Linked DNA regions of Homo sapiens. The protein of the gene in region 2 interacts with the protein of the main gene of each other region in a pairwise test. Each region holds a gene or a part of one and is shown on either strand. Other genes may lie near its edges.

Region 1 (3,500 bases), about 130 Mb from region 2:
ATAAACACTATGATGAACATCCTTGTACATACATTTTTGTGTACTTCCCCAATTATGCTTGTCTTGCTAGAATAAACTTCGAGTAGTTGAAGTATTGGGTCAGATAAATTTTTTTTTGTATTTTGTTGAGTATACTCTTTCTGAAGGATACGCCAGTACCCTGAGTACCCGATTTTATATAACCTTCCCAGTATTAGAATTAACACATTTTGAAACATCTTTTTGCCTATTGAACAGTTTATTATTTTCATTTATATATATTCTTGGGCATGTTTTCATATGTTTATTGACTTTATAAATTTCCTCTTTGGAGACTGATTCATATATTAACTGTTGCCCATTTCCTTATTTGCAGGTTAGTTTTCTTCTTACTGATTTTCAAGAACTACATTCGACTGTGTCAAATGTCTGTGATATTATAGATACTCCCAAGAGTGTTATTTGTCTCTTTTGGGTGGTGCCTTTTGCTACACAGAAATTGCTGTGTTTCATACAGTCTAATCTGTCAATCATTTCTTTATGACATTCAGTTTCTTGCCTTGTTAGAAAAACTTCTCCCATCCAAAGCTTAGCTGTATTTCTTTTAAGACTTGTCTGATTTTATTTTTTACATTGAAATGATTGTGCTTTTTGGATTTTACTTTGATGAGGAAAAGCACTTTGTAATCAAGATTCATGCCATTCTACATTTATTTTTGTTTTTATTTATTGATTTTTGCTGTTTTATACTGATTTTACTAGTGTCTCTCTTGCTTCTTCTAGGGGGTCTTTAAAGCTGTGTTCTTGGACATAGCCCACCCTTTCTTTGGTTTATTTTTTTAAATTTGTTGTGTGTGGTTTTCTGAGATTGGTTCCATCCTTGGGTAAAGCTTTTGGGCCTCAGTTTACTTGTGGCCTGTCATCCTCATGAGAGATACAATCATTTTTCTGCCTTTACACCTTACATCTCTTTCTTTTTTTGTATATTGAGGTTAGTGGATTGCCTGCTGTGATCTCATGTCTTGTCCCAAGCTTGCTTCCAGCAAAAATACTTCCCAGTTTCTTAGGTGACCTCAGATGGTGCCTTCTCCACCAGAGAATTCAGTTTACACAATCCTTTTTCTTTTTTTGAGACCAAGTCTCGCTCTGTTGCCCAGGCTGGAGTGCAGTGGCATGATCTCGGCTCACCACAACCTCCGCCTCCTGGGTTCAAGCGATTCTCCTGCCTCAGCCTCCCAAGTAGTTGGGAATAGAGGCACGTGCCACCATGCTCAGCTAATTTTTGTATTTTTAGTAGAGATGGGGTTTCACTGTGTTGGCCAGGCTGATCTCGAACTCCTGACCTCGTGATCGGCCCACCTCAGCCTCCCAGAGTGCTGGGATTACAGGCGTGAGCCACCGCGCCTGGCCAAGTTTACGCAGTTCTATAGTAGAAAACATACAAAGCTAACAGTGGCAGTTGTACATGGTTAGTAAGGAGATTGTCCCTATATCACATCTCCCAGGGTACTGAGTTCTGGTATATAATGTGTTTTCTAAATCAGTTATGTTTTTAAAAAATCATACCTTGTAAATGACTCGTGATTTCTCATACCCAGAACACGGTTGTTTTTAACAGGCCTTTTTAACGATTGTAGAATCACCTGTGTTCTTTGTAACAAACTCAAATAAGATAGAAGCACATGAATTAATTCCCTTCTTTTCTTGCCTCTAATTCAGAGCTCAAAGATGACCAGCCACAGTTACTTATCTTTCCAGACTTTTTTGTGCTTGTACAAATAGTTTTCTTATTCTTTTAAACAAAAGCAGTATCGTATTTTACAGGTTACAGAATTCTCTTCGTTTTACTGTGTCTTGCGGATGTGTCCCTTGGACCTGTCTATATACATAAGTCGTGCTTTCCTTCAAGTTCTCCTCTTCGTTAGCTTAGGAGAGCCAAGAAATAAAGACTTTCTTACAAATGACTGTTTGAGTTTGGCTGATGTGTCCTACAGAAACCTCACCATCTCTCTCTGTGTTCTCCCTACTCTCTTACGGGTCCTTACCTACTACCATGGCTTGGATTATTTTTGTGTATTCTCATGGCTTCCAACTGTTTTACATCTGCAGTGGTTAATTCTCTTGTCATCTTTACCTGAAGATCATAAAAATGCCTTTCTCCCTCTTACCCACCCTTTCTGTGTTACTCAATATTGTATTTTAACTCCCAAGCCTACAGTTTACCCTTGAACAACACACCAACACGGGGATTGGGGCTGTCTGCTGGGTGGCACCTGTGCAATGGTGACTGGGTTCTGGCTGTCACATGTGCAACAGTGTGTGTGCTGCAGCTGTCACCAGTGCAACAGTGGCTGTGTTCCAACTGTTCCCTGAAGTTTTAGCCAAGGTGATAGTCCGTTTTGTGTCACGTTTTGACCTGATTTATTTTTGCGATGATTTGGGATTGTGATTGGATACCATCCTTATGAATACTGTTTTCTTCTTTAAGGAAAGGGGGCTGTATACAGCTTTGATCCAGTAGGGTCTTACCAGAGAGACTCCTTCAAGGCTGGAGGCTCAGCAAGTGCCATGCTACAGCCCCTGCTTGACAACCAGGTAATGATACTGTGTCCAGGTAATGATACTATGTCCAACTTGTCATGGTGTTCAGTTGAAGTGCCTTCCTCCAAGTTCTCCTCTTCATTAGCTTAGGAGAGCCAAGATATAAAGACTTTCTTATAAATTACTGTTTGAGTTTGGCAGACGTGTCCTACAGAAACCTCATGGTCTCTCTCTGTGTTCTGCCTACTCTCTTGTGGGTCCTTACCTACTCCCATGGTTTTGATTGTTTTCCTGTATTCTCATGGCTTCCAACTCTTTTATGTCTGTAGTGGCTAATTCTCTTGCTGTCTTTACCTGAAGATCATAAAAATGCCTTTTTCCCTCTTACCCCCCCTTTCTGTGTTACCCAATACTGTACTTGAACTCCCAAGCATACAGTTGAGCCTTGAACAACACGGGGATTGGGGCGCCAGTTCCCCGAGCACTGGAAAATCCACATATAACTTTCGACTCCAAGAAAACTTACAAATAAGCCTACTGTTGACTGGAAGCCTTGCCAATAATGTAAACTGTGGATTATCACGTATTTTACATATGTATTATGTGCTGTATTCTTATGATAAATAAACTACAGGAAAGAGAATGTTATTAAGAAAATTATAGGAAGAGAAAATACATTTACAATACTGTATTTGTTGATACTGTAAGTTTACATCATCTGTTTACAAGGAGAATCATCTGTCTGGAGTGGTGGACAACCACAGCTGCAGACCTCAATCTACAGTACATATCAAGCAATTCAGCTTTTTCTTGTGATGTCATAACTTTCCCTGCTTCTTGGGGAGCAGTTCCAGCATCACTAATAGTGCTTTGTTTGGGCCACTTGTTATTTAAGGTTTATAATAATCGCACTAAACACAATGAAAAACAAAGGAGAACATTGAGAGATCACTTTAACTTTTTATAATCAGTTTATGTGT
Region 2 (3,500 bases):
ATCCTCTGCCGCCTGGGTTCTAGTAATTCTCATGCCTTGGCCTCCCAAGTAGCTGGGATTACAGGCACCCACCACCACACCTGGCTAATTTTTGTATTTTTAGTAGAGAGGTGGTCTCACTGTGTTGGCCAGGGTGGTCTTGAACTCCTGGCCTCAAGTGATCCGCACACCTCGGCCTCTCAAAGTGCTGAGATTACAGATGTAAGCTGCCACTCCCAGACAGTAAATATTTATTAAGCATTTATTCTATGTGAGTCATTGTGCTAAGTGATTTACATGCATTATCTTATTCATTCCTCACTGGAACAGTGTGAGGTAGGTACTGTACCATCCCTGTTCTGCAGACAAAACTGAGGCATGGAGAGGTTAAGTAAATTGCCAAATGCTATGCAGACTATGAACCCACATCTGAGTCCAGAGCTCCAGCTCTTAACCGCTATCCTGTATTGCCCATATACCCCTGTTGATATTAATTGGGTCAGATCCTACCTGCCATTTGACCCCAGTACCAGATATAGTACTCTCTTTTTTTTGGTTTATGTGTGCTTGCTTGCTTACCAGTGCGTTAAGGAACCACATCCAGAGATAGCATTTGAAACTACTTCATGGACCTCACCCTTAGCTACTGCTTTCTTCACTAATAGCATTTTTTCTAGTTTTGGGACATTGCTCCAGTTTAGGTTAATAGGAGCTATCCAATTTCAGTTTCCTTTAATGCTATTCCATGTGTTTGAGTAAATTATCCACCAATAATAAGGTGATTCCTGCCTGTTATATGGCAGTTCTCTGTGGAGGCATGAATGTGAAATATAGGTAAAAAGCCAAAGCACTGCTTGACGAATGCTGTTTCTAAGGATGGTCGTTTATGAATCTTTCTTTTCTATTTGTTATCAAGAGTTTTCCTTCTGAAAAGGCAGAAGATTTTACAGCAGCAGGAGAGAGATTCCTTTAAGAAGACGAAAATCATGAAGCTTATTTCTTCTTTCTTTCACTTTCCCCAGAGTCTAAATGGTGTTTGGCTGAACAGAGCGCGTCTGGAACCTTTAAGGGTCTATTCCATTCATCAGGGAGACTACATCCAACTTGGAGTGCCTCTGGAAAATAAGGAGAATGCGGAGTATGAATATGAAGTTACTGAAGAAGACTGGGAGACAATATATCCTTGTCTTTCCCCAAAGAATGACCAAATGATAGAAAAAAATAAGGAATTGAGAACTAAAAGGAAATTCAGTTTGGATGAATTAGCAGGTCCTGGAGCTGAAGGCCCCTCAAATTTGAAATCCAAAATAAATAAAGTGTCTTGTGAATCTGGTCAGCCAGTGAAATCACAGGGGAAAGGTGAAGTGGCCAGTACACCCTCTGACAATTTGGATCCTAAGTTGACTGCCCTTGAGCCAAGTAAGACCACAGGGGCTCCCATTTACCCTGGCTTCCCCAAAGTCACAGAGGTTCATCATGAGCAGAAAGCCTCAAACTCTTCAGCATCTCAGAGAAGCTTACAGATGTTTAAGGTGACCATGTCCAGGATTCTGAGGCTCAAAATACAGATGCAGGAAAAACATGAAGCCGTTATGAATGTGAAAAAGCAGACCCAAAAGGGGAACTCAAAGAAAGTTGTGCAAATGGAGCAGGAACTTCAGGACTTACAGTCCCAGCTGTGTGCAGAGCAGGCTCAGCAGCAGGCAAGAGTGGAGCAACTAGAGAAGACTTTCCAGGAAGAGGAACAGCATCTTCAGGTACCACACAGAAGGGAAGGGCAAGAGTGGTCTTCAGGGGTGGGGCAGGCACTTCATGAGTCTCTGGCCAGAGTTCTCAGTTTCTGGGCCAGGTACCAAATTCTGAGCACCAAAGACAGGAAATGGAATGGGAACAGTAAACTTTTGAGATAAGGGAAGGGGATTGAGTAGAGGGTTAAGGCTTCAGCATGCTGATGAGATCAGGAGCCAGAGTTAGAGTGCCAAGATAGGGTAAAGTGACCAGCAGAGCCAGCCAGGGCATAACTCATCCCAGGAGGCAAAGCTGAGGCAACTCAGAACCAACATGAATTCAGGGGGAAGTTAGGTGAAGGTCAACATGCCACAAAACCACAGTATAGTCCAATTGAATCAATAGTTGTCTTCAAGACTTGTGTATCTTTGCTCTGTGGCCAAGGCCAAATCACTTAGTCTCAGGGCAGGTACAGGTCAGCTGGTTCCTCTGCCCTGGTACCTGACAGTTTGTTAGCTATAAAGGTTAGTTAACTCTGTAGCTAAGCCAGGAGGTGAGGGGCTAAAAAGGCAGAAAATGTTTTTGTTTCTATTTTGAGCAGCCAGCATGTGATGGGACAGATGCACCATGACTGCATTGTTGGGTTGAATGATAAACCACCTTCCACAGTGCCTATAGTAGGAAGGTAAAATAATGACTGTCTTAGCTGTATAAAGGTAAGACCAAATGTATTTCCATCCCTCAGTCATTTGCTTAGATGACAAGCTCTTGCACAAAGCTTTAGGCTAGAGCAGATCCTGTCCCTGCTCAAAATGTCATTTCCTATCTGGCAGGAACCACATATTTTGCTCCCACCCAGTTGCTCAGATAATATTGAATGTCAAGAATTCCCCATTGTTGACTTAGAACTCAGACGGACCAGTCACAACTAAAGTGAATAAGCTTTTTGTTTGGGTTGCTCAGGGTAAGGAACAGCCAGGGGTAGTGTTGGCTTATTTCTGAGCAATTTATAAATTTCATTCTGATCTCTGCCATCCCCTTGAACTGACAGTATTAGCAAAGGCCATGGATTAAATAGGTCTTTTGAGAGTATACACTGCTTACTTATGTGTACCTTTTTGCTTCCCTTATCCAGCCTAGACTAGTTCTTGAAATTAATAGAGGGTGGTTTATGTCTACGTGTTTAGTATATCACACCTTCACCAGGACAGAACTCTCTGTAAAGGCTAATATGTTCAGGAACAAGTTACTGTTGCTTAATATTTGTGGCTGCTCTGGACATGCCTCAAGGTATAGCTGCAAAATCTTTTTCTGTACCAAAATGTTAAAGGCGAAAGGATTGGTTTAGAGAATTTCTCTGGGTATGAGTTGGTTGTGTATATGATGCTCATAGTGAAGTGTATCTAGTCCCTTGTTTATCAGCTGCATCTCCCTCTGCCCACCAAGCCCTGAGGATTTATCCTATCCCCTACTGCTGGTTTAGAAGCTCATTAAACCCTTGCTCCTTCACACTTTTTTTTTTTTTTTAAGTACTCAAATTGCCTGGTACTAGGGAATTCTAGTGGTTATAAAGATGCTTACCAAATGGTTTTTGCCATTAAGGAATTTATCTTGTTGAGGAGGCAAGATGTTTCCTGCACACGATATAATCAGAGAATAGTTTTCAGTCAATATAGTAAATTAGAGAACAATTTCAAGTTGGCATATTAAATGGGTAGGTAATTCTTAAGGACAGAAGGGCCCAGAAGTTCTTTTGGAAGGTGCTGGACATATAGGTTAATGATCACCTGGAA

What was found.
Region 1: the proteins of RNF8 (region 2) and PSMB1 interact in binary tests that used the Homo sapiens proteins (3 or more experiments, as listed by UniProt).

The regions. Positions count from the first base shown.
Region 1 is NC_000006.12:170,536,308-170,539,807, reverse strand, and holds part of PSMB1 (proteasome subunit beta type-1), read left to right. Parts: intron 1-2,467; coding exon 2,468-2,574; intron 2,575-3,500. UniProt on the Homo sapiens protein: Non-catalytic component of the 20S core proteasome complex involved in the proteolytic degradation of most intracellular proteins. This complex plays numerous essential roles within the cell by associating with different regulatory particles.
Region 2 is NC_000006.12:37,367,483-37,370,982, forward strand, and holds part of RNF8 (E3 ubiquitin-protein ligase RNF8), read left to right. Parts: intron 1-895; exon of another isoform or gene 896-1,001; coding exon 1,002-1,736; intron 1,737-3,500. UniProt on the Homo sapiens protein: E3 ubiquitin-protein ligase that plays a key role in DNA damage signaling via 2 distinct roles: by mediating the 'Lys-63'-linked ubiquitination of histones H2A and H2AX and promoting the recruitment of DNA repair proteins at double-strand breaks (DSBs) sites, and by catalyzing 'Lys-48'-linked ubiquitination to remove target proteins from DNA damage sites.